Linked DNA regions of Homo sapiens: all the other regions are reported to be linked to region 3. The links are microRNA targets in miRTarBase. Many come from high-throughput screens and were not tested one by one. Region 3 holds a microRNA gene; each other region holds the end of a gene's coding sequence. Distances are from middle to middle.

What was found. The annotated mature microRNA hsa-miR-3156-5p reads AAAGAUCUGGAAGUGGGAGACA and lies in region 3 at 2,521-2,542, opposite strand. An mRNA with a match to its seed (bases 2 to 7 or 8) in the 3' UTR can be bound and repressed. Matches are read on the target gene's strand: a 7mer-m8 pairs with bases 2 to 8, a 7mer-A1 pairs with bases 2 to 7 and ends in A, and an 8mer does both.
Region 1: the mRNA of TXNL1 is a reported target of hsa-miR-3156-5p. Seed matches in the 3' UTR shown: 7mer-A1 at 4,502-4,508 and 7mer-A1 at 173-179.
Region 2: the mRNA of HNRNPA2B1 is a reported target of hsa-miR-3156-5p. Seed matches in the 3' UTR shown: 7mer-m8 at 6,186-6,192 and 8mer at 5,951-5,958.
Region 4: the mRNA of HOXD9 is a reported target of hsa-miR-3156-5p. The part of its 3' UTR that is shown has no 7-base or 8-base seed match.

What each region holds. Positions count from the first base shown.
Region 1 is chr18:56,597,044-56,604,833 of GRCh38, forward strand. It overlaps TXNL1 (thioredoxin like 1), which reads right to left. Exons shown (of 8, transcript NM_004786.3): 8 at 166-6,013. The coding sequence ends at 5,984. Among named protein-coding and RNA genes, the nearest start is that of TXNL1, 38 kb to the right of the region's middle.
Region 2 is chr7:26,185,461-26,193,236 of GRCh38, forward strand. It overlaps HNRNPA2B1 (heterogeneous nuclear ribonucleoprotein A2/B1), which reads right to left. Exons shown (of 11, transcript NM_002137.4): 10 at 7,035-7,117; 11 at 4,467-6,878. The coding sequence ends at 7,056. It overlaps NFE2L3 (NFE2 like bZIP transcription factor 3), which reads left to right. Exons shown (of 4, transcript NM_004289.7): 4 at 1-1,677. The coding sequence ends at 323. Among named protein-coding and RNA genes, the nearest start is that of HNRNPA2B1, 11 kb to the right of the region's middle. RefSeq lists enhancers at 111-160, 181-410, 2,811-3,335.
Region 3 is chr18:14,824,926-14,832,715 of GRCh38, reverse strand. It overlaps MIR3156-2 (microRNA 3156-2), which reads right to left and starts at 2,550; the gene lies at 2,474-2,550. It overlaps ANKRD30B (ankyrin repeat domain 30B), which reads right to left. Exons shown (of 44, transcript NM_001367607.2): 33 at 4,408-4,438; 34 at 1,261-1,333.
Region 4 is chr2:176,123,278-176,131,067 of GRCh38, forward strand. HOXD9 (homeobox D9) reads left to right here. Exons shown (of 2, transcript NM_014213.4): 1 at 1-308; 2 at 657-1,660. The coding sequence ends at 898. It overlaps HOXD8 (homeobox D8), which reads left to right and starts at 6,428. Exons shown (of 2, transcript NM_019558.4): 1 at 6,428-7,666. The coding sequence starts at 7,090. LOC100129455 (a long non-coding RNA gene) reads right to left here and starts at 7,251. Exons shown (of 1, transcript NR_187615.1): 1 at 4,548-7,251.

The DNA of each region.
Region 1 (7,790 bases), 42 Mb from region 3:
AGAACCCTTATTACTAAGGCAACTCAATGACCCATTCAGGACTCTAACAGGAATCATCTTTGTGATGTGAAATTAGAAACTTTTAAGAGAACAAAAGCAATCAAGAAAAACAGTACTAGAATGACAGATAGGACAAAATTTATAAACAAAATACAAGAGAAAAAGCACCTGATAAGATCCTTTAATGACAACTTCAAAGCAGTGTTTCATATTCTCTTACAAAATAGTGCCATCCATCTCCAAGTTTTGCCAAGTGTCATGTAAAACTGTGTTCAATGGTAGACTATAAAAGCATCTACATTTCTTTGCCAGAGGGTTTTGGAATAATTATCTGCTGATGCTTCAACTGAAAGTTTATTAATATGATCAATGATTCCTATAATTAAGCACTAGAAAGACTGTTTCCACAATTTAATGGATTAAACAACTGGACATCCCAGCTAATTTCAATATCACATTTGAAGATGGTGACTGCTCCCTCTTGGATTCATTAACACTACTTTATTACCACCTCCTGTTTTTCCTCCCTTTCCTGTTTACTACTCTACCTTCCAGGTTCCTCTTTTCCCAATTCTTTAATATTTCTTAGGATTCCCTAACATTTGCTCCTTAGTTTCATTCTCTCCCTTTATATTCTAAAAATTCCCATTCATATACATATTTCAGTTTTCATCATCTAAACAACTCCTAGTTCCTTGCTTCTAGCTCTAAGCTCTAAAATCACATTCCTGGCTTTTTACTTACTAGACATCGCCACCCAAATACCAAAAATGCAATTTAAGGCAATGTACCCAAAACCATATTCATCTTCCCCTCTGAACGTTCTGCTTCTCCTAAGAGCTACTTCTATATTCAATTGTAAAAGTGAGAACCTTGTGAGACATCACAGACTTCTCTATGCTCGCTCCTCCCATAAATTAAGGAGAAAGTTTGATCTCTTTCACATGGCAAGAGGAGCTTCACCTTACCGTCTCTACTTGCTCTTTCAGCTTCTCCTTCACTTCCCTAGAATGTCTCTTACACTTAACTCCCACTCTATGAACACACTATGCACTTTTCCTTTACTTCAGCTAAATTATCTTCCTTACCTTCCTCAACTGCATATTCCTACTTTATCTCTGACTCAACCCAAGCATCTCCCCTTGGACCCTGAGAATTTTTTCAACATTGTATTTAATGATAGAAACCAAATAAACTGGCTTAATACTAGAGACAAAATACTTGTATTACAGCTCACAATCTAGTAGTCCAAATAAGACTACAGATCATTACAAGTAGCTTGATAAGTATCCGGATGAAATAATGGCAAGGTGTCATAGCAGCTGAGGAGGCGTGCACAATTGTTATGATTATTCCCGGTATCAGTTTTCCTTGGACTGAGCCTTGTAGATAAGTAGGAATTGGTCAGATGGAAAAGTTAGGTCAGAGGAAGGCATGCGATATTAGGGTACGTTCTGCTACCTGGTAATACAGCACAGCACACTGGAGAAATGAGGGGCATGGGGAGGCTAGAGGAGGAGAGATTACATTACAAAGACCCCATAAAGAAAAGAGAACCAGCGGCCATGTGGGGGATACATGAGAGAGGCCAGAGCAGAAACAAAGAGACAATTAGGAGGCACTGCAGTATGCCAAGCAAGTAATGATGGCCTAAAAAGCAGTGACAGCTGAGAGCAGGATACAGAAGATACTTATCCTTGTTCCAGATACAAAGTAAGGCGCATCTTCAGAACAAGTCTAAGAGATAGATGTTCCTATTTTTACACAAGAAGAAATTTGAGCTCTGAAGGATGTTACTTGCTCAAGATGACACAGCTAACAAGTGGAAGAGCAGGGATTCAAACTTCAGAGATTTTGCTCCTAGGTAGTATGATGAGCCAGTATCTCCAAATGCGTGTCCAATTATAAACCAACAGATCATGTTTTCACAATTAATTCTGGTCTGTTCAACTTAGAAATAATTCCAAAATAAAATTCCTCTTCCCATAGAGAAGCATAGCAAGCACGAAGGAAAAATACTCTAGCAGTTTTAACATTGCATATCCTTAAGATTTTAATATTCCAAGCTGTGTACAATTTTAGTACATTCAAATTCTAAAGGTTATCTCTTTATCTTATAGTTCTCTAATTACACATTCTCCAACTAATAATTTTACATGGACCACAAAGTTTAAAAGCGATCTTATTAGCCTACAAATCTCCACTGTCCTCTTATTCCTATAGTGCTGAGCATGTTAAAAAAAAAAAAAAACCTTATTGATCAAAAATAAAACTTGAATTTTGAAACATGCTTAAAATGACATCAGTAGTCTTCCTTAAGAAGTATAGGCTTAACTGGGGAATAGTCAATATTTTAAAATTTATTTACTATATGCATGTTATATATACTTGCTTTATGTGTATTATAAAGCATAATCTATATTTACAAAACTGTAAAATACACACCTCTAATAATGAGTTTTAAAGCTAAATGAGCAAAATATTCCTCTAGTTTTTCTTTAGCAGTTCTGTGAATGGATTTTTTTTTTTTTTCTTTTGAGACAGTCTCACTCTGTTGCCCGGGCTAGTGTGCAGTCATGCGATCTTGGCTCACTGCAACCTCCGCCTCCCGGGTTCAAGCGATTCTACTGCCTCAGCCTCCCAAGTAGCTGGGTGTGGCACCTGCCACCATGCCTGGCTAATTTTTTGTATTTTTAGTAGAGACAGGGTTTCTCCATGTTAGCCAGGCTGGTCTCAAACTCCTGACCTCAAGTGATCCAGCCGCCTCGGCCTCCCAAAATGCTGGGATTACAGGCATGAGCCACTGTTCCCAGCTGGATTTCTTACTCTAAGTTACTTATCTTAAAAAAAAAATAGTCTAAGATTACAAATTATCAGTTCCAGAAGAGATATACCTAACACAAAAATTAACCTACTAAATTGAACTATATGAGTATCAATACAAGCAACATGAGTAAGCCTTAAATTTCATGTTTTTAAAGCTTACAAAGGGTGTAACTAATTTATTCAACTCCAACACTTTATTCTTATTACAGAATCAAAGCTTTTAGACATTAAGAGGAACAAGGGAGGATCTGAACTATTTTAGGTTTAAAAGCCCATGATCAGGGATATTAATTGCAGCCATAAATAAACTGCTGAGGCCAAATAAACAACTGCATTCCTATAATCGCTGCCAAAAACACTGCATACATCCTCAAACATTGAGACAAAGGATGGCAGACAGGTTTCAACTCTAATTGTTAAGTGGCTGCCTCCAACAGAATATTGAGACTGGGGAACAATGTGGGGCAGGTTTCAACTCTAATTGTTACGTGGCTGCCTCCAACAGAATATTGAGACTGGGGAACAAAGTGGGGCAGGTTTCAACTCTAATTGTTACGTGGCTGCCTCCAACAGAATATTGAGACTGGGGAACAATGTGGGGCAGGTTTCAACTCTAATTGTTACGTGGCTGCCTCCAACAGAATATTGAGACTGGGGAACAACGTGGGGCAGGTTTCAACTCTAATTGTTATGTGGCTGCCTCCAACAGTATATTGAGACTGGGGAACAACGTGGGGCAGGTTTCAACTCTAATTGTTACGTGGCTGCCTCCAACAGTATATTGAGACTGGGGAACAACGTGGGGCAGGTTTCAACTCTAATTGTTACGTGGCTGCCTCCAACAGAATATTGAGACTGGGGAACAACGTGGGGCTTGATGTCAAAGAGAACTCAGAAGGATTATAAAAGCCTGTCGTGGGCACAAGAATGTGGTACCTTGTGCTACTCTTGGCTTCAGCATTAAGCTGACAAAGACTTCCTACTGCAATACCTGACTTTCGTTTCTATTATGAACACGATATTTCACTGTTGTTTCTCATCAAAAGCACCTGATGTCAATGTATCAAAATACAGAGATCATGAAATTCTTTTTTGCTATGTCCGACAAAATGAACAAGAAACTGAATACCAGTTTTCTAGATGCACTAATAAATAACTTCAGTTAAAATAACTAGAGTTACATTTTTTCAAATGCTCTTATTCATCTGGAAAATTCAGTGTTATATATAAATGTTACATATACATATGTGTGTATATATATATACTGTTTTAGGAGAAAACAGCATTTCAGTTTGATATTTTAAATGCCAATTATGCACATTTATAATAGTAAGATTTCCCATTAAGTGAAACGTTATAGTTACCTATAAACGTTCATTTTTCACTATTTACAATTTGAATTATGTAATACTTGCATACTGCAACTAATTGTTATAGAAGAGTCACATAGACAATATAAATCTGATGTCCAATCCTTTACAAATACGAAATTTGTTTCACTGGGTTTTCAAACTATCAAGTATAAATAGGAAAAGGTCAGCAATACTTAGGATGAGGCACTTTAACAATTACTCAGAAAGGTTAAGTGTACAAAACTGTAAACCAAAACCCTGCATATTAATCTTATCCTTAATTTCAGATGTGATTAATCTGAGATGGTCTATTTAAGGAGTGTTAAGATCATCACAGACCAGTTAATGTGCCCATATACAAATGAACTAAACTATCTAATGACACTTGGGTTTCAGAAAGGGACTCTTTCAACACTAAAACTTCTGTAGAATTTTTTCATAAACAAGTATAAACACACTGCTCTCACAAAGGCAAATGGTATCTCTACCATATTCCTAGACAAGAATGCCCTCAAATGTTTAACTGAATCACAATTTTACAGTCTTATGTACTCTTTAAAAATAGTTTTCAAAATACTCAGAAATTTTAAAATTAAAACTACCAATACTTTTTAGATTACAATTTTAAGATAAAAAAGGTAACGAATAGGTATTTTACCAGCCTTTTGTGAAAGACCTTTTAAACATTTCTATTTGAGCACCTCATTTTCAACCTTAAATCATGTTCTCTGTATATTTACACTGCACGTTTTGGTAGTTCAGGTAATAAATACTTGATTAAGGGTAATAATTCCCTTTTTTTTTTGGAGACGGAGTTTTGCTCTTGTCGCTCAGGCTGGGGCGCAATGGCGCAATCTCAGCTCACTGCAACCTCTGCCTCCCGGGTTCAGCCGATTCTTCTGTCTCAGCCTCCCAAGTAGCTGGGATTACAGACACCCGCCACCATGCCTGGCTAATTTTTGTATTTTTAGTAGAGACGAGGTTTCACCATGTTGGCCAAGCTGGACTCGAACTCCTGACCTCTGGTGATTCGCCCGCCTTGGCCTCCCAAAGTACTGGGATTACAGACATTAGCCACCACACCTGGCCAATTCCTGTTTTCTGAATTCACTATGCTGTATTTTTTCCCCAACTGTCTGATTTCCACATTCTTCTATTAGTTAAAAAAAAAAAAAAAAAAAAAAAGGCTGACTCAAATTTTAAAGTTTACCAGAAGAGATTAAAATCTTGATATATACCAAGAAAGAATCTGTGGACCCATTAGCTAAGTTTTAGGTAAGAGTAGCTAAATCTCATTAAACCTGTTTATTTCTTCTAATTTATAATTTGAGTAATTTCCATAGCTCAGATATACAAATGTCCTTTAATAAAAATGCAGTAATAATTTAACATGGTTAGCTGTTCCAGGTTCACTTATCAAAATAACTTGCCATGAATGTGTACACATGTACTTCTTAATTCCCTAGAACAGTTTCTCCTTTTCTAAAGAAACTGGCTTTCAATCAATATACTACCAGACACTTAAGTCTCTACTAAAATCAGAAGTTAACCAGTTTTCAAATACATGGAAAGAGAAAATACTGATTTAGAAAGACAAAAATTAAGCTTGGCAAAAGTGGTGACTTTTATTTACAATTGCATGTGTCAAGATTACAATGGAAACACTAGTGATACCATCTGAACAAAAGCAATGATTTATTGGTAATGGCAATGAATGAAACATTGACAGTCTCTGGCGAGAATCAAGCAATTATCCAGGAGCTGTAGATCTGATTGCAATATGGTTGTCCAGTGTCTTTTGTACCTTAGTGGCTTTCTCCTTTTTTGCCAACTACCTAGAAAAACAAAAATAAGTTTATATGTACATCCTATTGATTTTAAATATGAGTTATTAAAAATACTAATAATCAGTTTAAAACCTTGGTATTAATTTTTATCCTTGGATCTTTTCTGGCATGCAATGTATTTTCACTGTTGAAGCAAACTGTGACCTCCCCTCCAATCCCAGCCACAAGGAATTAAAAATAAAACACATGCAGGCTATTTTTGGTTTCACACAGTTTTTTTTTTTTTTTTAAATAGCAATTTTTAAAAACAAGGTTGAAAGTTTAGAGAAGTTAATTTAAAAAATGATGCTATATGAGTAAAACATATTTGACATACTATTTTTAGATAGTTAGAAATCAAATGTCGATCACAAAAGAATCTGGAATTAGAAGCGTATGTTAAACTCATGTCCTTCATGCCCAATATAGCAAATTTCCAGACTTTCCCCCTCAATACACTGACATGCAATGAAAACAGATTAAAAGTGACTAATTTTTTCTGGTTTAAGAAAAAGATCCTGGTTACTTTAAGAGTACTATTAAAAATGAAATGAATAAACCTTGTTTCTGTCAATGATTAGAAAAATCCTCTACTGGAGGATTATAAAAAACATTCTGGTTGCTATATATGTGGCAGCATAAAAATGTGAAGAATAAAAATTTGTTCTCTACCAACAAATCTAGAAAACAAATTCTCTGCAGGAGAGTTTGAAAACTATGTTCTAATTGAGAAATGTACTGACAACTTACAGTTTATCATTAGATAATGTATTCTTAGGGCAAAAATGCCTTGAAAGAAACCTACTTGCAAAATACTGAATGTATGTTTGTGTAGAAAGATTTCTGTGTACATTTATATATTTAATTTTCGTATTTTACATTGATTCTATTCTAAATGGCAGTATCTATACCAGCAAAACTCATAAAGGTCATCAGTACATGTCTGGTCTAAAATATAACATAGCTGGGTCAACATCATTCATGAGAGACCTGAAAGCTTTCCACTGAAATCCCAATCACACAATCCTAGAAATGTTTTTCCCACCCTAAGAAAACTCACTTCTAGTACCTTAAAAGAACTCCCCTTTGGTCCAAAGACACCATGTTAGAAAGCTCACAAGGTAGCAAGATGATAAAAAGGCAGTTTCATATAAAAGAATGTGGATAAGAGTAAGAAATTCAGGTTTTAAGAGCCACTAGAAGGGGAACTGGCATTATCTCTATCACAAGTAAATTTTGTGCTGATAAACACTGAGAGCATTATTGATCATTGTATTACTTGGGAAACACAAAACACAAAGCTATTAGATTAAGCAAAAGAAAACAAAAACAAATATTAAAAATTAAACTTCTAGCAGATGTGATACAGAAGACACAAATCTGCATACTGTTTCACAGGTTGATAACTCTCAACTTGCCAATGTGTATTTTCTGTAAAAAAGAAGAAATTCAACATTCCAACATGGATTGTCATCCCAAACGTAAAGCTCTTTTATTCATTCTTAAGTCTTTATATTACACCTCAGACAAACCAAAATTTAGGTACATAAAAATTAGGTGTAAAAAATATTTATTCAGTAAAGAGTCCATTGATCTTCTATATTAATATGTTAACCCAACCTAATATTCAGTCCATAAGTCCTTCAACTGGTTTTGAGCTCACTTGGGCAAAAGCAGAGGACATGCCCCAATCAATCATCAAAAGGACTTTGGGGCTAACATTCCAACGAGGAAAAGAAAACCAACACCCCTCAACTGAAATGTAATCAATATATTAAACTAGCAC
Region 2 (7,776 bases), not on the chromosome of region 3:
ATAAAGTTGCTGCGCAGAACTGTCGTAAACGCAAATTGGACATAATTTTGAATTTAGAAGATGATGTATGTAACTTGCAAGCAAAGAAGGAAACTCTTAAGAGAGAGCAAGCACAATGTAACAAAGCTATTAACATAATGAAACAGAAACTGCATGACCTTTATCATGATATTTTTAGTAGATTAAGAGATGACCAAGGTAGGCCAGTCAATCCCAACCACTATGCTCTCCAGTGTACCCATGATGGAAGTATCTTGATAGTACCCAAAGAACTGGTGGCCTCAGGCCACAAAAAGGAAACCCAAAAGGGAAAGAGAAAGTGAGAAGAAACTGAAGATGGACTCTATTATGTGAAGTAGTAATGTTCAGAAACTGATTATTTGGATCAGAAACCATTGAAACTGCTTCAAGAATTGTATCTTTAAGTACTGCTACTTGAATAACTCAGTTAACGCTGTTTTGAAGCTTACATGGACAAATGTTTAGGACTTCAAGATCACACTTGTGGGCAATCTGGGGGAGCCACAACTTTTCATGAAGTGCATTGTATACAAAATTCATAGTTATGTCCAAAGAATAGGTTAACATGAAAACCCAGTAAGACTTTCCATCTTGGCAGCCATCCTTTTTAAGAGTAAGTTGGTTACTTCAAAAAGAGCAAACACTGGGGATCAAATTATTTTAAGAGGTATTTCAGTTTTAAATGCAAAATAGCCTTATTTTCATTTAGTTTGTTAGCACTATAGTGAGCTTTTCAAACACTATTTTAATCTTTATATTTAACTTATAAATTTTGCTTTCTATGGAAATAAATTTTGTATTTGTATTAAAAATTAACTTTTCCCTTTTATACAGAATCTGAACCAAATTTACCTTACTTTCCTTCCAAAATATCCACATTCAGGAATATAGGTGAATAACAAATAAGGCAGCATAGCAAACTGCTCAGACTCAAGCCAAATTGAGGTCAACATAGTATGCCAAATCCATAGTAAGGCAAATCCACCCCCCTACCCCAATACTTAACACACAGAATACTATGTGATATAGAATGCACTGAAGACCTACGGTCACTGGTAGTTTGAGCCACAGGCCTTCCTCATGTAACCAGAGACAGAATGGGCTACTTGCAAAAACGTAACTCCTTGTGTGTATATTAAATCCATAAAATCTCTGGCAGTAAAGCCAGCCTGAAGGGATGGCCTCACCATCTTAGAATACTGAGATCTCACCAGAACACTGTAAGCCATATAAACAGTAGGGAAAGAGTCAGCAACAGTGAAACCATCTGTTTAAAATGGGCAAAAGCGATTAAGGGAAAAAAAACAGGTGAATTTGAAAATAAACCAGGGTAAGGTAAATTCTAGAAATAATAGCATTTGAAATGAAAACCTCACTTAAGTTCACTAGAACAGTAAACAGGAGATTGCTGAATTTTTTGAAGACAGCAATGACCTCACCTAGATGACTCAAGTTTGGGGAACATCAAGATTTTGACGGGTACTATAATGCTTAATATGTCCAAATTTTCAAAATGAAGTTTCTCAGATATTATTTCTGCCATAGGAGCTACAGTGTAGAGTATCACATAAGTATCTTGGGCTAGAGAAATGCAGTTTATATATACCGTTGGATTTTTATAATAAAGTTTCCCAAGACCTGTTATTTTGCCAGAAATGCTTCTAGTATGCTTCTAGATAAAATTGCCCCTTCAGTGACTCATGGTGTTCAAATGATCATTTTAGTCTGTTGCTTTTTACAAGGGAGTATTTCAAATGTCTTAAGCTTTTGATAATTATAATTTAAGAACACACATAAAACATTTCAGTAGGAAATCCTACTAAGTACACTCAAAAGAGTGCCTGCTTATCAGATAGCATTCTTTTCAAACCTCTAAAATAAAAGACAGTGGAGAGCAGAATCGGTAATCATGGTGACTCTTGTTACCCATGCTGAAGTGCAGTGGCCCCAATAAAAGATCCAGCCTCAAACTCCTGGACTGCCTCAGCCTCCCGAGCTGCTCAGATTATGGACCGCCATGCCTGGCCTGAAGTTTAAACTCTAAAAACCCTTAAATATAGCACACACAGATCTAGTAACTGCAAACTGAATATATTTAAAGATGGTAGTGTCTGTACTGAACTTTATTCCCCATACATAATGCAGCATACCATTTACCTAGCTTCTACCTTGGATTAAATATTGGGTAACCTAGACAACTCAAGTGTATGAGATGTGCTTAGACCACGTGCAAATACACGTTTCATACAAGGGGGCTAGAGCATCCACATTTTGGTATTGTGGAGGTTCCTGAAACTGATGGGCCCCTCTCCCATCAAGGGACTTTTAATCGGCGCATTAAGCAGCCAGCGTCACAAGCTCTAATTGGCTATGGGCTGGCTTCCTGACATAACCCTGCCTCCATCTTAACATGCTGGATTCAAGGTATATAAACTGCAACTGCTTTTCTGACAGTCCAGTTTTAGAGGCAGAAGGGAATTCCACATTCGGCTTCCAGTGCAAACCAACTAGATTACAAAGCCAATGCCCGAAAGCTGACCATTGCCTAGGACCCTCCACATTACCTACCTAGTTGAGCAGTCTTGATTGCATCATCTAACGTCTTAATCAGAATGAGGAAGACAAGAACAAAGACAACCCAAGTGGGTTGGACATCTCCTTTTCCAATTAAAACTATCACTTGAGCATCTTCACAAGTGTGATCAGATTTTAGGCCAATTGTACGGCAACTCCAAGCAAAAAAAGACCTAGATTTCTAGTGGTCCCCTGGTCTCAAGGTAGGCTTCGGTTCAGCAGAGCTTCAGAACCAGTATACAGGGTTTTGTGTGGTAATATTAACGTCTTTTAAACGCACTCAAGTAGCTAAATCATTCCCCATCTCAGTCTCTGAACGATTTGTTCTCTGTTAAGTCCATGCAACTCAACTGATTTGTTACCAATTCCCCTCCACTACCCCAAAACAAGCCAGTGTTAGTGCATTACTAAATAGTGGAAATGTCAAAAATTATGTAGGGCCTGTCAACATCTCAGTATATTAGTTCCAAACCTTAAAGAGAGCGAATTTATGTAACATGCAGTCCAGGTGTCCTGACAGATGTTTTCCACTTTTCAACCATCAGTGACAAACTGAGACTTGTTGCCTTACATTGTTAGCTCCCAATGCCTAACTAGTATTTATTAGGTCAAGCAATTTGGCATCTACCAAATTGGGCTACATGGAAAAGCTTACACATACAGAAATCTGGTTTCACACTAGTGAATAAACTGAGTAAGGGCACCCCCTTGAGTGTGACAGCTGGCATCTGAGAGTTCCCAATGCTCCCTGCCTGCTTGGTAATTGTACCAGGGAAAAGAACCCTCCCACCACATTCTGTGACCATAAAGGATGCAAGATAGCACGACTACTTCGTAGAGCGTGTTCATTTTACAGCTTTTCTTGCTCAAATCACTCACCGAGGGAAGATGACAACCAGGATTAACTTTAAAGCTGTTAGTATGCCACTCTGGATATTAAAAAAATTCTCCAATCCTAGTTTTCTGTGATTGGAACCTTGAGCTTTACCCAGAATCAGTTAAGTTGCTCCCAATTGCTGACCCATAGATGCTGGTTTGTTTCTCTGAACTGCTCTTAAGTATTGAGGTAAGTTGTTACACAGCAACAATATAAAGCCTTGGCCAAAAAGCAGCCTTTCTTCATTTAGGGCACTGTCTCAAAGCTACACAAGAACTACCTTAAACTTCAATTTCTACAAGAGAAACAGCTCAACACAACATATACACACAGGAAATAAGCCTATGTTGAATATCCAACATTACCCCCATGCTTCAGTAAACCCTCCTTCAATCAGTTCATTTCAGTCTATTGTGCAATTACCTAATTCTCCCCTATTTGTGTGATATTCCCTTGACCTTGGCTGGATAGGAGTTGGTATTTTGAGGTTATGCATATCAACCTGATGTATTTCAAAGTTCAACGTCTTTGTACATCCACACATTTTTAAACCTTCAAAATTTTCTTAAAGTTGGGATATTTGTACGTCTTTAATTGACGAACTCAGCTATTTCAAACAGAAAGCTGCTTTCTATGTGTTACCTGCTGTTAAATTTGACTTACCTGTTAGATACCTCACATTATCAAAACCAAAACAAATTATCATAGAAACAAATTAACCTGGTCTTTTTGGTTTTCTTAATTCAGATAAATGTCCAAATAAACACATTTAAAAAGCAACACTGATATTCATTTACTCAGTGTAAACCACAATAAAACTAATTGACATTTGACAATCTAGCACATATTGTAAACCTCAGTGCTTCTGCAAAGCCACTTAATCTGGACCACTCCAGCCGGTTAACCTTTAAAATCCATGATTTTCAAAATGCCACCAGTATTGCTAAACGTAAAAGTAAAGCCAGAAACTTTAGGAGTACTCAAACGCTGAATATACAGTGCATAATGAACAGCATTTTATTGGGGACAGCCAATAATGTCCACAATGCTCTTCTCATTTACCTGTTAATATTAAAATATGCATAGCTTTGTGAAACTGCTTTTAAAAATTTAGGGGATGGTGATCTTTTAGACAACCAAATATTTATAGAACAAGATTCACACATTTTATGTGTAAACATTACACCAAGTATTTGGATACAAAAAGTATTTATTTTATAAACTTTATATTTAAAATAGAATTGTAATCTGTCTACTCACAAAACCTAATTTAAAACATGATACATTTATCTCTCTAGCCAATTTGATGTTACTGTTTTACAAACAACACTCATTTTGTAATTGTTTTATATCAAGAACCTCAACTAAATGTTTGTTTTATCAGAAAACATTTCCCTTTTATTTTAAAGAGTGCTTTTTAAATGAAGGCACCAACAAGAACTACTTTCAGATGGTACAGAATTTCTTATTTCTTGAAGACTCTGTGGTTGACCACTTCTTCATTAGTTACCTGCAGCAAGACACCTTCCTGCCAAAGGAAAAAAAAAGTATCTGAAGAAGTTTATCATGTTTGTCCAAAAGAACCTAAACAACTTCAGTGGTGGTCTTAGGATCAAAGAAGACTCATTGGTGTATAGAGTAAGCCCTGAGTATCACATTCCTGTAAAGGCAATAAAGCCGGGCAATCAAACTGATCATATCTAAGGAATGAATTTCAACAGCCAACCTACAACTTTCTCTTCAGGGTAAGACACTGAACTAGAATTACCACATTTAACCCACCTATTTAGTACTGGATACATACCAGGCTTCATAATGCAGACAAGACACTTCACTCAAGTATGAACTACTATCTGAAAATAGATTCAACCATTTTTGCCCTACCTTCTTTCAGTCTCATCCTGATAAGCATGTACAGTTACAACCATAAATACAACAAATGTCTTTAATAAAAACCCCTAGTTCACTCAAAATGTTTGATCCAAGAAATGTGAATACACAAGGGTGTAACGATGGGAAATCTCATGATTTATTGAACTTGCAGCCTAACTTTTACCTACCATTTTACTACCAACACCACTGAAGGAACCAAGAAAAGCTTTATTAATGATCACTTGGCTTGCCTCAGCTGTTGAAATGAAGCACTTTACAGTCTTTGTGGCAGCAGAATATACTTGTCCATGGTTCATATCAATGCTAAAATTCCGGCAGGGAAAAAAATGATATGTTAAGCACCCAAATCTTCACATGGAGGGGGAGGGGGTGGGAAAAGAAGGAAAAAAAGGGAAAAACAACCAAAATAATTTAAGTAAATGACAGATTGGAAAACAGGGTTTATAAAAATTATTCTCTTGAGTTTATAAATTGTTAAACTCAATTTATAGCTATGTTAAACTACGTAAGAACCACTATACTGAAAGACCATTTAAGAGTATTAGTTTATCTTTTAGGGAGGAAAATTAAGAAAGGAAAAGTAAATAAGATCTTACCTAAAGAAGTTTAACTGAAGCTTAGAACTATTTTGCTCTACACCCTCAGCTTTCGTTGGCATCCTTATAAACTACTGTAGTTAAAGTTTTGTAGAAACAGCACAGTTTTTTAAGACTGGCTGAACTTAGTAGCCGTCAAGAGTTCTCTTGTACTAGACCTGTGTCCCTGAAGAGTACCTCGCTGGGGTTATTTCCTTTCCTTGCATTGAAGAAGCAGCATCTAAAAGATCTAAAAAGGTGTTTCTCCTTGCAGAGATATCCCTTAAGTTATCTACATAATTTAATCCTGATGAATTGCAGACAACACACTTACATCTGACCAGCATTTATCTTATACAAATATAACAACAGCTTTGCAACGGACCTTAATTATACTACCCACTCCTTAACTTATTTAAAATAAAAAGTCTATAATTACACAATTTCCTTTAGAATTATTTTATTAAATCATAAATGTACAACAGCTTCTTAACTCTACACACGCACTTAAATTTTTTTAAAGGAAAAACGTTATGTCTTATTACACCATGATCCTGGCTAATAGCTTTTCAAAACTTTGAGAAAAATCTTAAAAAAGGTTTCACATGTCACCTGAAACTTACAAATTTAACATTATCAAAGAAGGAATGCTTCTACACTCTTACAAAGACCACTAGAAAGAAACAACAATTAAAAAGCTAAGAAACTGTCTCAAAGGCATTTTTTTTTACAATCCTTCCTCCACAGTAAGGTAATGTTATTAAATAATCCAATCCATTCACAAAATGGCTCTCTGCATCTGCTCTGGTGTCTTCTGCCATATCACTGCATATTTATGCATGACTGAGATAAGAGTTTCCTTAACATTGTTATTTCGATAACCTGAAGCTGTTCTGTTACCTCTGGGCTCTCATCCTCTCCTATTTATACAGTGAAGCCTGTTTCAACAGAAGTAAAGAGTAAAAAAAAAATAGGTTATGAAATTATCCATCTAACCAGATTTTAAGGAAAGATAACATGATCCTAAAAAGCTTTTACTCCTGCAGCTATGTCTCCCAAGATAATAATAATTGTAAAACTCAAAAGCTACTTACCCATGGCAAATAGGAAGAAGCTCAGTATCGGCTCCTCCCACCATAACCCCCACTTCCTCCACTGCCTCCTGGACCATAGTTTCCTATAATTGTTGGAACAGCAAGAGAAAACAAACTTACTTTGATTTCCCATGATCAGCCTAACACTACAGTTGATTCTATTTTATATCCATCCAGTCTTTTAAACAAGCAGATCCTAATCCTTTGCAGCCAGTTAGCAGAATTACTCAGGAGATAAATTACTCGGGTTCATAGACATTTTTATTTCGTGGCTGACCCTATTCTTTTAAATAAAGGGTCCTTTCACCCTCTCATCCTCATTTGGACTGAGTAAGGGATTTTTTTAAAAGTACATCAAGCCCAAGACAAAGCTAGTTTACTCCTAGCTAAAAACCTCAAAAATAAGCTAAGCAATGGTTTGAATCATGGTTTAAGGATTTAACTTCAAAGACCCTCATTCCAATGTATACCACTTGCAATGTGGGTTGCAACTGTATTTAGCTGTTTATGAGTCCCCACCAGAAATTAAACTACTGAACACCCCCACCTCCAACATCCCTAATCCCAATTTGATGTCATAACTGCTTGCTGAGTACTTCTGTGGAGATTTATGCAAAATTTCTTTATTTTCACTAAGACCGTACATGGAGCACTGCCCACAGTACAAACTACTTAGTATGTTATCTTCCCTTTAAGTCACAAAAGGCTAATCCTTTAATCACAAAAATCTGAATAACCTCAA
Region 3 (7,790 bases):
CATTAGATTTAATTATAAGGTATATTATGCATATTATCTTACTTGTAACATTCCATTACATAAAAATTCATTTGCTTATTTATTCACATTGAAAACCGCTTAAAATGCTTTTTACAGGCAAGACTGTATTCTGGGTACACTAGGATGCACACAAGTATGTTTTCTAACCTGCAGTATCTCATAGTGATGCAAGAGCTCCAAAACGATTATTTAAATAACTAAATACAAAATCTTCTGAAATTTAAAATTTTCAAATGTGATCAAAGATCTTTGAACAATATGTTTAAAAACTGCAATTTAAAAACTCTGAAATTAAAATCTTACCATATGCTTATTAAGAGTCTCTGCTTCCAGAACTGGTTTTTTACTTGGGGTGAAACCTGCATTCTTCATTTAGTTGAAGAATTTAAAGTATACTTTTAATGAAATAACTTAGAAAACATCCTCACATGCCTTAATAATACAGATTCTGAGAAAGAGAATTTACATTTCTAAATTTCTAAATTATATTCAAAATTAGAGATAAGGTCTCGCTATGTGCCCACACTGGTCTCAAACTCTTGGGCTCAAGCAATCCTCCTGCATCAGCCTCCTTGGTAGCTGGAACTACAGGCATGCACCATCATGCCCAAATAAATTTTCACAATTTCTAATATTATTTTGGTGTTTAATTAAAGAACCAAGAAGAGAAACTGATAAAAAGCTCTCTCCTAAAAACTACATGATATCAAAATAATATGCGCCAAAAAAACCTATATGCTATGTGGCACAGTTTCAGAACTGAAGTTTATCAGACAGATTCCTTGATTACTGTAATAAGTAACTGGATCCATTAAAGATAATTTTAAGGATGAGGTGTTTTTAAAGTTACAATAGAATAATTTTAAAAGTCACAGTAAGTTTACTTATGCAAAGAAACCTTTACCAGATTTTATATATTCTCTATTGTGGAAAAGTTTTTTCTAATATAATGTTCCTGTCACTATGTATTTCTACAGCCCATTCCGGTTTTTGGCCCTCACACCCTCAGAGTATTTACCAATCATTTGTTATTTACTGAAGTAAAACAAACAAACAAAAAAACAAAAAAAAAACTGTTTAAATCAACTACTCATATTTCTATAAAATGTTTTTATGTGACCAACTTTATATTACCAACATGAAATTATGATACATACACCACTGCTAAACATGAAAAGTAAATACTATACAGAATTAGATTCCAACTGAGAAAATCAATTTAACAAGAGACTATTTTACCTTGGTAGTAAGATTAAAGTCTTCCTCAACTTTTGTAGACTGTGAATTTTCAGTAGTCGGTTTGCCAAAAAGACTAGAGAAAAAAGATAAAACAAAAATGAGCAAATTCATATATTTAAAAAGAAAACCTGCCAGTTCATATCTTAGTGCTCACTCCAAAAAATGAGAACAAAAAACAAAATCTGGGGAAAGATCAGTCCTCAATATATTAAATCATGTTTCTTGGCATAATTAAAATATGCCATCTGGTTTTCGTTTTTTTTTTTTTTTTTTTCCGAGACGGAGTCTCGCTCTGTCGCCCAGACTGGAGTGAGATGGCTCGATTTCTGCTCACTGCAAGCTCTGCCTCCCGGGGTTCATGCCATTCTCCTGCCTCAGCCTCCCCAGTAGCTGGGGCTGGAGCCCGCCACTGCGCCCGGCTAATTTTTTGTATTTTTAGTAGAGACGGGGTTTCACCGTGTTAGCCAGGATGGTTTCCATCTCCTGACCTCGTGATCTGCCCGCCTCGGCCTCCCAAAGTGCTGGGATTACAGGCGTGAGCCACCGCGCCCGGCCCCTCTGTTTTTAAAAAAGATTGCATTTACCTATTTTTGACTCTATCTCTCCAACCTGTAACATCCAATGAACACTCACTCTTAGTTCCATAAAAAATAGTGACCGCCAATATAATTGGCATACCCTGAGTATAATTAGTCCTCACAAGCTGTCCTCTATGATGAACTGAAAATGTACTTAATGGCTGACATAACTTTTGATATCTAAACTGGAACAAACTTGATAACCTAAAATGAGGAAGAAAGGTACAGTTACCTTGTCCCTTATCCATTGTCTATCTCTGATTCAAAGACTAATCTGTGTCACTGGAAAATGACATTCTTTGTTTTTCAGCATAAAAACCACTTAAAAAGGCCTTGTTGCTTCCCTTCACCCTAAAACGCTACAAGAGAGTGCCCTGAAATATCTGAAATGTTGAAAAGCTGAACCTACAAATGTCAAAATACAAATCTATATTTGTTATTGGGAATATTTTTCTCACAAAAATTGAAACATTAAAAGTAAGAAAGTCTAACTACTTATTTTATACTTTTCCTTCCTTGTTCAGGTCTACATAAACTAGCAAAGCCTTAAAAATCTTCGTAGGTACTTATACCCAAGGAGAGAGACTGCTAGAAAAACTGAGTCCTGATAGTTGGATTTCTCTAAGTACTATATATACAGAGAGAAAGATCTGGAAGTGGGAGCCACTATATATAGTGAAAGTGTCTCCCACTTCCAGATCTTTCTTCTGCAGAGCTTCATGGCAGTCTCCAACCTTTAAATATTTAGCTCATCTAAGCACAGATTACTGAAAAGATAAACTCAATGACCAACCAATAAGCTCTGTATTTACCTGTTCCTGAAAAACAACTAAACAGAGTCTCAGTCATGTTACCAAAAACCCAACTGAAGCTCCATGACTAATTTGACAGCCAATCTTCCCCCTGCTTTACATGTACATGGGTAGGACATCAGAGGCTTGGAAAAAGAGGCAAACGGGAGGGGACACCTGCCTTAGGCCACAGATCTATGTAATTCAGCAACCTTCAATCCCCTAGCACTGAAGGGGCTCTAAGCCACTCCTGTGAGATTTGGGGTGAAAGAACAGAATAGGACATTTCTATTCTGATTGTGGAGACTTTTCTGAGTTGGTCTTTTTTTCTAAATCTTTCAATAGAAATCTTGAAGTTTGCCCATTCCTCCAATTAAACAAGCAAAAAAAGCAGCAATCTATTCAGGACTTCTTTGAACCCTATTTTAGTATGCCTTTCTAGATAACTCCCAATGTCTTCTGTGTTTTTGGTCCTCTAATTTATCTTCATCAAACTTGTCATAAGATCCAATATTCTGATCTCTTTGGTAAAACCCTTACTCCTACCAATCCTGGGATTGTTTCTCTTCAAACTTGGCCTTTCCCTGATAATTCCATTCTTATCTACTTCTACTGGGTTTTCCAGCTAATTCCATTATTCTTTTCCATTTGTTTAATCAGATCCATCCCCTTTTCCTTTCTATTATTCAAACACTCACTTACATGATGATATAAAAACAAGAGTAATGGGCTTTGAAATGAGTTTAAATATTACTTCTGCTACCTCTTATATTTAAATAAGTCATTTTGAGTTTCAGATTCTCCATGTGAACAACAATTTTTCCAGGATATTAAATAGAGTTTAAAATATGAAAGTATTTTGATTAGTCTCCAAGAGTCCTTAAAATCCTAAAATTCCATGTGCTTTAATTTTAGCTATAGAAAAATGGGGCTGGCAGAAAGAAATAAAATAATAGAAGAAAAGAACACCAAGGAAAGCAGAGAAGAAAGTAATCAGGAAAAGATTATAAATAAGTCATGAAAGAAGAGAAAAGACTCTAGAAAAGAAAATGAAGAGTGCATGCAACTAAGAGGGGACTGCTTTGAAGAAGAACTAAACTAAGAAGTCAGTAAATAGAGAATTCTATAAGAAATAGCCTCTAAATATGATTAACATATCTATATGTAGATATTCTCCACTAAGAGTGAAATAATCCATCTATAGGATTTACCTGGTATTGCATATGAAACAAAAGCCTATGTCTTGTGGCCACAGCTAAGTAAGATCTGCTCTAAAAACGTTGGTGATAAAAACAAGGTACTGGTTACCACTTTAACGGTTAAACATGTTAGAACAAAGTCTTGGATTAATCAATGTTCTATGGGAAATCTCTAAAAAGAGTTAACATATAACAAAATGTGACTTTGTGAATTGATCCCATCTGGTCCTGTACCTTGATCCTAGTGATCCACAGGTCTCCATCAATCTATGCCAAGGGGGAAGGGAAGGGATTAGGGAGCAAGGTAAGCAGATGGCAAACTCAAGGGTCAGCTACTTTTTAGCTATGACATCATAGGCCAATTAATCAACCTCTCTGAATCACATTTGCCTGATTAATACAAAGTAGGTGACAGTAGCACAGATGCTTTGCAAAGCTGTGTGATGACTATGTGAGATGATAAATATTAAGCACATAATACGTTGTCTAGCCCAGAGTAGAATACTCAGCAGATAGTGATTTCTTTTCTCTATATTTTCTGAGTTAACATATACGTTTTAAAAAACCGCAAAGTCTTACCTGAATGTGGACTCTACAGAACTCACATCCTCTATTAAAGAAAAGAGTAAAATACATTAAATCAACAAATATAAATAAAAAATACAGAATATTAAAAACATAAGAGGGCACGATGGCACATGCCTGTAATCCCAGCTACTTGGGAAGGTGAGGCAGGAGGATCATCTGAGAGGTCCAGGAGTCTGAAAGCAGCCTGGGAGACATTGCAAGACTTCAACTTAACTTAAAAGAATCACGCACACTTTCATGCATGATTAAGGTCTTGGTTTAAAAAGCATAATACTCTGACACTTTGTTACAAAGACTCAGATGATTTGTTACAAAGCATTCTTTTGGGACCATACGTTGAGACTATAGTAAAATTATTATTAAGTATACTATTGGTAGGAAATTAATGCATTAAGAATGCTTATTTCCCCTCCTTTGTAGTTCTCAAATGCAAGGAAAAATGGAATTTATCACAATTTGATCTCTGCAAGTGAACTACAGTGTACAATAGTCATCATCCAAACAGAACCCTATAAGACTGACAGAAAACTGTATTATTAGCAGAATTAGTATAAGTGGACAGTGTCAAACTTAGAAAGTATAATTTCTAGACAAATGGACTAGAAGCAGTTAGAACAGAGTATACAGTAGTCTCTTATCTGCTGTATGTGTAGAAAGAAACACACACAACATGATTTCCCTCTGCTCTCATACCAAAATCATTAAAACAGAAGACATCTGCGACCAAATGTGTGGAGGATTTTCTCCACCAACAAATAAGCAATGAATTCTGTAGAAAAAAACAGCTGACTGTCCTCTATTTAATTCCAACCCTGTCTATCTAGAAATAGTCTCAGATCCCACAGACTGAGTGCTCAGTCTCACAAGACTTCCCTCACACACCAGTTGCAAATCTGGGTCTCTTTAATTTCTGTGATTTCAGTTACTCATGGTCAATGATAGTCCAAAAATATTAAATGTGGAATTCCAGAAATATACAAGTCATAAGTCCTAAATAATGTGTCATTCTAAGGAGTACAATGAAATATTAAGGCATCCTGTTCCATCTCATCCAGGTCATGAATCATCCCTTTGTATATGCTATCTGCCCATTAGTCATCAAAATGGTCTGTTCCTGTATCCCAACCATCAACATTATCATGGCTCAATGATCCAGGGTCACATGAAGCAGATGATCCTCCTTCTGATGTGTGGTCAGACAGCAAGAAATAATTAGTAGCCTAACACCACATGACAACTCCTACCTCATTCATCTGACTTCATCTCATCACATAGGCATTATATCATCTCACAGTCATCACAAGAAAAAGAAGGGCGAGTACAATACAAGACACTTTGAGGGACCATATTCACCTAACTTTGAGATTACAATATATTGTTATTGTTATATTTTATTATGAGTTCCTGTTAATCTCTCACTGTGCCTAATTTATGAATTAAACTTTATCACAAATATGCACTTATAGAAGAAAAAAAGCATGGATGTATAGGGTTCCATACTATCCACAGTTTCAGACATTCAATGGGTGTCTTAGAAAATACACGCCTTGGATAAGGATGAATTACTGTACTTGTGTGTGTGTGTGTGTGTGTGTGTGTGTGTGTGAGAGAGAGAGAGAGAGGGGGAGAGAGAGAGAGAGAGAAACAATACAGATCTCCACTCTCCACAAGAAGCAGATAAAAAAGACAACACTTTTCCTCACACATGACCCTTAGGTTTTGACAATTCTGGAAAAATGCTGGCATGTGTACTCCCCAGTCTAGACAATTTCCTAGACCCTGTGTATATATGCTGCTTTAGTTGCAAAAAGTTAGGTAGGATCTTGGGAGATTTCCTCTTGGACTCCAGAAATATTAACTACATCAACATTATACCTAACAACTCTAAAATAATTCTTTTGAACAGATTACCACTGTAGAACTTGTAAGTTAAATCCAATTGACTTTTCAGTTATAATCTTACTGCTGAAATTCTCATATTTAAAAGAAATTTGCAACATCACTTTCTCTGACTCCTCTCCTACTTTTCATTAGCCACTGCTCAGTCTCCTTTACCAAGTCCTGTGACTCTGTGAAATGTTGATACTCCCAGGATTTTGTCAATGGCTTTCTTCTTATTCTACATCTTCTGCATCATGGATAAGCTCAGTGAGATCTATGGCTTTGCTTAATAATTATAATAAAATTATTCTAAGCCTGCATCTCCAACCAGAGTTCTATCTCCAGCTAGAAATACGTATAAACCAATTACCTACTGAAAATATCCCACATGAATGTTTCATTGAACTCAATATGTAAAGAAAACGGTTGGTCTGTCCCATGACTGTTTGCACTTTTCTGTTGACCTGACAATTTCTTACTCCTTCCCCATGAGCATTCCCCATGTGGAAACTTATGAATGACCTGAAATTTCTTCTCTCCCCTAGCTTTTTCAAATCAATAATCACTAAATCATATTAACTGTACCTCTTTTCTGCATTTGCTTTATCTTTCCATTGCCACTGGAAATACAAACTTATTTATTTTATATTTATATTTCCTAGTTAGACATGGCCTCTTAACTGATGGCTTTCACAGGAAAAAAGCAACCCTACCTGTAGGGGATCGGACAAAGTGGTTAAAAAAATTATAAAGATAGTTATAGGAAATAGACACAAACCTTCTTGGAAGGCCGGGGGGTTGCATAGCTTCAGTAAATGATTTGGCTGAAAACAGCCTAATCTTCTTTACTTTGAGTTGGTAGCAATAGAGCAAATATCTAGGGAATGTGGAGGAGTTTATCTAAATACCTTGTTTACTCACGTGGTCCTAAGACAAAAGTTTGATCATCCGAGGGTGCATGATTGCTTTGTACTGGGGGTTGGCAATCTTAATTACCCTCTAGTGATGTTTACTCAACAGTTTTGTCATTTAATCTGTACTAAATAAATGTGAACTTTGCAGGCTTATCGAGGCCAAGAATGCAGACTCAGGCAGCAGAACCCCTTAGCTGCACTGACAGGCAAAAAATCTGTTTCAGTATATGTCTCTCATCTGTCACTTAGGTCAGTGTCCATGGGATGGACCCGGCAGGTGGCAAGACAAACTATGCAAAAGGATCGTGATGGAACCCTCAAATATGAAGGTGAAAAGAACTGCACAGGCAGCGAGTAAGTCATTGGTGCCTGCTCAGGATTTCCAGGTTCGGGGGAAATTGTTCAGGCGAGGGTTTCATCATGGGACAACAATTATCAGCACAAAAGAAACAGTATATGAAAGTATTGAAAAAGCTGCTTAAAGCTAGTGGAGACTTGGTATCGTGGTCCCTCAATTAAGGGACACAATGCAAACTGTTGTATTCCACAACCCATGGTTATGGAATTCCAAATTCAGCT
Region 4 (7,790 bases), not on the chromosome of region 3:
CGCCACGGCCGCCTCCACCACCTCCTCCTCCTCCACTTCCTTATCCTCCTCCTCCAAACGGACTGAGTGCTCCGTGGCCCGGGAGTCCCAGGGGAGCAGCGGCCCCGAGTTCTCGTGCAACTCGTTCCTGCAGGAGAAGGCGGCAGCGGCGACGGGGGGAACCGGGCCTGGGGCAGGGATCGGGGCCGCGACTGGGACGGGCGGCTCGTCGGAGCCCTCAGCTTGCAGCGACCACCCGATCCCAGGCTGTTCGCTGAAGGAGGAGGAGAAGCAGCATTCGCAGCCGCAGCAGCAGCAACTTGACCCAAGTAAGTGCAAAAGAAATTGCCCCCTGATTTATTGCTGAAACCTGTAAGGCTCGAATGTGCAAAACTGATAGTTTTACTAACCTATAAAAACGTCTAGACGCCTACCCAAGCCTAGGCGAACAACATGCATCCATAAAAAGAGCTTCCCATAACCACCTACCCTGGGCGCTCAGTTAGTACGGTAAACAGAGCGCGAGCATTAAGGCTTTTTATGATAATTCCCCACAAGTTGTGAAAAGCGACCATCCTTGGTGAAATTAATTTAACGACCTCTCTTCCCCACCCTGTGGTCTCTCCCTGCCTCCCCTCCTCTCCTCTCTCCCCGTCTCCAAACCTCCCTCTTTGTAGACAACCCCGCCGCGAACTGGATCCACGCTCGCTCCACCCGGAAAAAGCGCTGTCCCTACACCAAATACCAGACGCTTGAGCTGGAGAAAGAATTCCTCTTCAACATGTACCTCACCCGGGACCGGCGCTACGAGGTGGCCAGGATTCTCAACCTAACAGAGAGACAGGTCAAAATCTGGTTTCAGAACCGTAGGATGAAAATGAAAAAGATGAGCAAGGAGAAATGCCCCAAAGGAGACTGACCCGGCGCGGTGCTGGCGGGAGCGCTCAAGGGCAGCGGATTTGTTGTTGTTGCTGTTTTCCTTTGTGGGTGTTTGGTGCTTGATTTCCAGAAACTCTCCAGCGACTTGGACTTCTTCTTCTTTTTTTTTTTCTTTTTAGATAGAAGTGACTGTGTGGTTGGTCTCTGAGGTATTTGGGGGACTCTGTATTTGCTCGTTTACGTGTTGGAAAAACCAAGTGGCTTTGGGGTTTCGCCCTATCCCACTCCCTCTCTTTCCTGCTCCATTGGTTCCTTAAGAAATGCTATATTTTGTGAGTGCAAGCTGGCTTGGGGAGCCCTCTCTTGTGTAAATGTCCCCCATGTTTCTGAAAAGTGCTGTAGTTTAGTCCCCTCACCCCCAGCACTGCCCAAACAGGGGCCAAGTGCGCCCCAATTCCAAGAATGAAGGCAGAGCGACAACAGTGCGGACACCCCGGCTGCTAGCCCACGGTGAAGCCCGGCGGGGTTGCCCACCAGTTGCGAAAGCCCCCTTTCCTCAGGGAGCACGCGGGACCTCGGTGGAGATCTCCAGTGAGGCTTAGAGGAGCCCAGGGCCTCGGGCGGGTTGGGGTTTGTCCTCAGTGCATTGGACGCGCTGCTCTCTCCCCTGAAGGCTGGGCTCGCGTGGGCGGCCGCGGGTGGTGGCCCTCCCGGTTCCTGCCCGAGGACCAGTTGTAAATGTTACTGCTTCCTACTAATAAATGCTGACCTGATCAAATGGAGCCCAGACGCTGGCCCTAAACATTGTGTGCCTGCTTTCTCTGCCTCTCTGCAAAATATCACACTCAGGATATTTCTCCTCTACCCCTGGGAGTGAGACATTGTTAAAAATTCAGGGCCCTTCCACCTGACAGATCTCTCTGATGTGTCTCTGCCTTCTCTGCCTCACATCCCTTTGTGTAGGCAGATGCAGCAGCACAGACCCTGTGGGGGGACATTGGTGCCTCCCCAAGCCTGGTTCAAGGTCCTCCACGAACTCTGTGCTTGGGCCCAGTGTTAGCCTTGCAGAAGCGCCCAGAAGAGCCAGCAGGCCCCAGAAGCCAGGCACTTTCAGGCTGGGGCTTGGGTACACAGCACCCTAACCTTCCCTGGGCTCCTGAAGCCCCAGATGCCAAACCCCTCTCCAAACAAGGGAAAGGCCAACTCTACACTCTGGAGCAACTGTCCCAGCTCGGTGGGGCTAGCTGGCTCCGGGAGGTCCCAGCTGGTCAGGCTGTGAGCTTCTGCTCCTCCCCACCAAAGCCCCAAAGTGACCTTAGCGATCAAAATGGTCAAGGCTCTCCTCCCCAGCCACCTCCATTTCACCGCCCCCTTCCCCCCACCCAGCTTCTGTGTATGTTTAGCCCCCAGCTTGGCCCTCTGAGGGCTGCATTCAGGGGCTAAAATGAAGGTCATTGTAAGTGAGGGTTTGGGTGAGCACAGCATTTGCAGGCCAAAGAGGCAGCACTGCCAAGTGGCCTGAGCTGGGTGGAAGGTGGGGGCGGTGGCAGAGATCTTGGGGGATCCCAATGAAAGAGGGGACGCGAAGAAAAAGCATAGGGGGGCTGGGAGGGAAAGCCAAGGAAGGCCCAGATCCGGCAGAAGGTGCTGCGCACCCCTGCCACTGTGGCCAGCTGGGTACCTAGGGCTCTTTGAAAACAGGAAGAGCCGAGGTGTCATAAAGCCATCTAGCGGGCCAGACGTCTGGAGGTAATGAGTTTACGACAGGCCCAGTGCTTTGCTTTGAAACCATCTCATTTTGATGTTTGTGTTTGTGGGAGAAAAGGAAAAATGCAGACAAAACTGGGTCTTAAAATCTAGACAATAAAATATAAACAAGACTGCGTTGGACCAAGAAGGCAGGGGCATGGGAGCCCCCAGGTGAGGTGTGAGCACCTAGGAAGTAAACATGAAAGAGGTAGGAAGGAAGAGGTGAATGAATTTCTGATTTTTGAAATGAACCAGGTAATGGAAGTAGCCTAAGGAGATGGCATTTTACAATATTTTGACTATGACCACGGTTTAGCTGGTTCTTTAGAAACAAACAAACAAAAAAATTGGCCTGTTATCTGGGGATAGGGTGGTTAGTGATCTTAGGTCATTTACCCAGGTGAGAGTCTCCCAGAAGTGTGGTTCGCGGGAAAAGATGAAGTTAGATGCCTATTCACAAGAATCTCTGGCCCTCCACTCCAAACTTTGAAGCAAAATGTTGTTGAAATTTATGTCTATTCACTTATAAAAAAATACAATTGTTACACCTAAACTGGAGGAAAGCAGTTTTGAAGATGAGTAAAAAGATTAACCTAACAGGAAACACTTAAGCCAATTGAATAGTCATTGCTTTTAAAAAAAATTCTAGTGGAATGCTTAGTTCAATGACTTTTGATATATATTTTTAAAATCCCATTTATTGTCCATAGAAATTCCAACAAACAGAAGCGCAAAGGGACTTTCCAGACAGCCACTCAGAGATCCAGCAAAAAGCTTTTGATTTGGCTTCGATTCCCCCCAAAATCGGCCACCTAAGTGGGCCCCAAAGCATTAAAGTTACAGTGTTAAAGTAGCAAATATTCATGATTTAATCCTAAAAGTAACAGCTGTAAGAGAAAAACAAAAACATAACAATACTTGATTTCTGTAATTTCTTGGTTGCCAAAGTGTCTGGTTCCTCTGGAAAATAAAAAGCCTCTTGGCAGTTGATATTTAGAAAGTTGTAGGTTTTGTTAAATCTAGCCTGTCCTATAATTGTTTTAAAAGGCACAGCTGGGCGGTTACAGCATGGGGACTTTTGGTGTCTGGCAAAAGAAGGGCTGGAAGCTTTTGGAAAAGACACTACTGGAAGCTGTTGGGAGCACTGATTAGAATATCCTAGGCATACAGGAGCTCCTGCTTGCTGCTCTTGACTTGTTGACAGTCACAGGAATGAAGCATTATTAGTGTCAGCAGTCCAAGCCCCAAATTGAAGAACGAGATTAGAATTGGTTTGAGATGAATAAAAATTAAATTCAGTGGACTGGAGGTGGCATTTGGCCACTAGAGAGCGCTGTTGCTCCACTTTCTGATCTCGTAAAGCTGGAATTGCGGCGGAGAAAGGTTTTGATTAAAAATATTAACAATCTTATTTTTAATCCGAAATTAGGATAATTTTAACCAAAAATAAACAAGGTGTACTATTAATTTCTGTGTTTGCTGGGCATAAAATTTTGGCTCGATCATGGCTTCAGAAACTTTGGACTGTGGCACAGCTGAAACTATAAAACATGATAAATTAATGTATTATATCAAAACAGAAAGCTGTAAAAAGCATAGATCTTTTCTTACTAAGTTAATCGCGCTCTTTTTCTACTCATATTATAAACGGAATGCTTAAATAAATGTTAAAAACTGTTTTGTCCCAAGAGGAAATGTTGTAACGTTTTCTAAATTTGGCCTGAATGTCTATAAATGAATTTTCTAGTGTTCATTTTTCTTTTATTCCCCCGAGGAATCACACAGTTCTACAAGATGCCTGGTATTGTTGAGATCCAGGCTCTTTCATTTTCCCCCCCCCCATTCCATTCCAAAATCCACTCATTTATCCAGGGTTCAAACACACACACACACACACACACACACACACACACACGCCAAACTGAAAAAAAGGGGCACAATTACAAAGGTAGCTCCAAGGCTTTATTGACAATAATAATCTTTTAATTGGGCATTTGCAAGATTGAAGGACAAATCCTTAATTGTCAGAATCAATTCGTTCGCCTTCGGATTTAAAGAAAGTCATTATACTTGGCAATAACCAGCAGAAAAAAAACCCCACAAAAACAAACAGCAACAACAACAAAAAAACCCTTGCTCTCCACCACCCCAAGTCTGCACTCCTTACTAATTTAAAAATTAAATAAAGCATGCCTCTGTCATCTCCAGATTCATTAACGATTCCTTTACCTTTCAGTCATTCCCAGTAGAAATAATTGAGTCGGACATTATCACCTTGCTATGTCTGTCCATCTCGATCTCATTTTCTCCATTTGTAAAAATGATATTTCAGTCCACCCGGACACAAGTCAGGATCGCGCTCGCAGGCTGGGCCAACCCACAAGGAGCTAGGGGTAGCTGAAATCGCTCGCCAGCCTGCAGCATCTCTGAGGCCGTCTGGGGTTTTCGGAAATTTGCATTTGGTGTGGAAAGCCGGCGTGGTGCGTTTAGCTTGAGCAGGGGCGCCTTGGAGGTCTATTTCCAAGGCTGTGGGCCTGGCGCCCTCACGACATTGTACCTATCCCGAAGGAAACGGGGCTCAGTCACCCAAAGAGCCCACGAGAAAGGCCGAGCAGGAGAGGGGAAAACACACACACACAACAGAGAACCATTGCATTTATTGGACATTGAAACGGGAGCAGAGAGGGAAAGGAAGTGTGTGGGGAGGCGGTTGGTAGGGTAAAGCCAGACAGCTTTGGAGAGAGCTGCTAAAATCGGGAATATTTTGTCGATTCACACTCGACTGGGCCACATGACTCGGGCAACTTTTCTTCATCTCTGCTCACAAACTAGGCTGAGCCTTCTCTTTCTCTGCTTTGGGAAAAATTCGTAACTTTGAGGCCTGCGCGCTCTCTCGGCAGTAATTTCACAGGCTTGGCGGAGGAAGTAGGATCGTTAGCATAAGATGGGCCGCCTGCAGCTGCCTGGAACCGGCGCGATCTGAACGCCGGCTGGGAGGCTCCTGGGGGGAACTTGCGGTCGTCTGCCCTCCGCACTCCTCCGGGAACCGCAGCCGGCCCTGGTTCGCTGCGCGCCGGGGCTGAGACCCGGGAGCCGCGTCCTGCCCGAGGAAATGTCACCCTCCCCAGCGCGAGCCCTTTTTCCCGCCTCAGAACGTTTCTGTCCGCTCTTCTATTTACTCTCTCAGCAAGCCTAATGCCCCCTCCTGCATTCTTCAGCCTCCCCCTGCGCCCAGGGCTGACGTCTATCAAGGGTGAAATGATGGAAACTATATTCATGGGCATGATTTCCATTAAATATCAATTAACCTGAGAGCCTCGGCCAGGCTTGCGGTGCGTCAAGGGTAAATGTACATCTCATTTCCACAGGGCCCGCTCGGCTGGAAAAGAAAGGCTTTGATTTGCTTTGATAACGCCAGGATCTGGGGCCACACTCGCGGCTTTTAATTAAACCACTTCGATATGCCCCAACTCAAATGCACGGTCCGGTCCGTCAACACCTCTTGTCCACGTTCCCTGGGCTGCACCCGCGTGTCCAGAGCTGCAAAAGCCACGGGCAACCTCTGCTTTTGCAGCCAGGGGCTCGGGGAGGCAGTCATTTGCTCCGCAGCCTCCTGGGAGTGGCCTCCTTGGCTCCCCCAAGTCTAAGGCTCCGCCGCGGCCCCTCCCTGCCGGCTGCGATCCGCATTCCCGCGGCCCCGGGGCACACGGAGCCCTTGGCAGTGCGTCTTTATGGGCCCCCTTTAAGGCCGGCGGAGGCATCTCGGGCCGGGCGCGGCGCTCCGTCCGTCGGCCGTAGCGACTGAACTGCGCGCGGATCCCTCCGCGGGGCTCCTCGTCCCCGTCACGCTGACTTTCCGTGCAGTGCTGTGGTGCGAAAATGCCTCGCCGGTGCGCACCGGGTCGGCAGCCTCGGCGGCGGGGGCGAGATTGGCGGGAGGGGGGCGCGGGGGGGGCGCGGTAAGAGGTGGCGGCGGGCAGAGGGTGTTTTTTTTCTTTTCCCTCCAGAGCCGGGGTTTGTAAACCGAGGCCAGAGTGTCCCCGTGGGCCGAGCGCACTTTTTTCTTGTCCGGGTGCGCTCAGTCACTGGTGCCTGAGAGGAAACAGTGGAGGCAGCGGGGCAGGTCGCCTGGGGCGTCGGCGATTATATTGCGGCCGAGCCGGGGCGCGCCGGGAAAGGCCGGGAGGGCGGCGGCGCGCGGGGGCTGGGCGAGGCCCCGCGACCCGCGAGGGAGGCGGCGCGAAGCCGAGGCGGCGGGCGCAAGAGCCGGGCATGAGCGCCCAGTAGCTGAGCGCCCGCGGCTGCCTGGCCTCAGAAGCGACGCGCGAGCGCGGGCGGGCGGCAGCAGCGACGTAGCCCGGCGGTCCCGGCGGCGAGAGCAGCCGCCCCACAGGCCCCCGCGGCAGTGCGGCCGAGTCGAGGCTCGCTCTCTGGCTGCTTAGCGCCGCCCGCCCGCCCGGGGCCGCCGCCGCTGACGCCCCAATGAGTTCGTACTTCGTGAACCCGCTGTACTCCAAGTACAAGGCGGCGGCTGCGGCGGCGGCGGCGGCGGGCGAGGCCATCAATCCCACTTACTACGACTGTCACTTCGCGCCCGAGGTCGGCGGCCGTCACGCCGCCGCCGCAGCAGCCCTGCAGCTCTATGGCAACAGCGCCGCCGGCTTCCCGCACGCGCCCCCGCAGGCGCACGCGCACCCGCACCCGTCCCCGCCGCCCTCCGGGACTGGGTGCGGCGGTAGGGAAGGCCGGGGCCAGGAGTACTTCCACCCCGGCGGGGGCAGCCCGGCCGCTGCCTACCAGGCCGCCCCCCCTCCTCCTCCGCATCCTCCGCCTCCGCCGCCACCTCCCCCCTGCGGCGGGATTGCCTGTCACGGGGAGCCCGCGAAGTTTTACGGATACGATAACTTACAGAGACAGCCGATTTTTACGACCCAGCAAGAGGCCGAGCTGGTACAATATCCTGACTGTAAATCGTCCAGTGGTAATATTGGCGAGGACCCAGACCACTTAAATCAGAGCTCGTCTCCTTCTCAAATGTTTCCGTGGATGAGACCACAAGGTTGGGATGCATTTTTTTTTTAAGAAGGGAGAGGGGGAGAAATCTGCTTTCATCTCACGTTCTGGCTTTAAAACTCCCGTTCCCTCTCCCCCTCCTTTTCCTTCTTGTGTAGCCACAGTGGCTC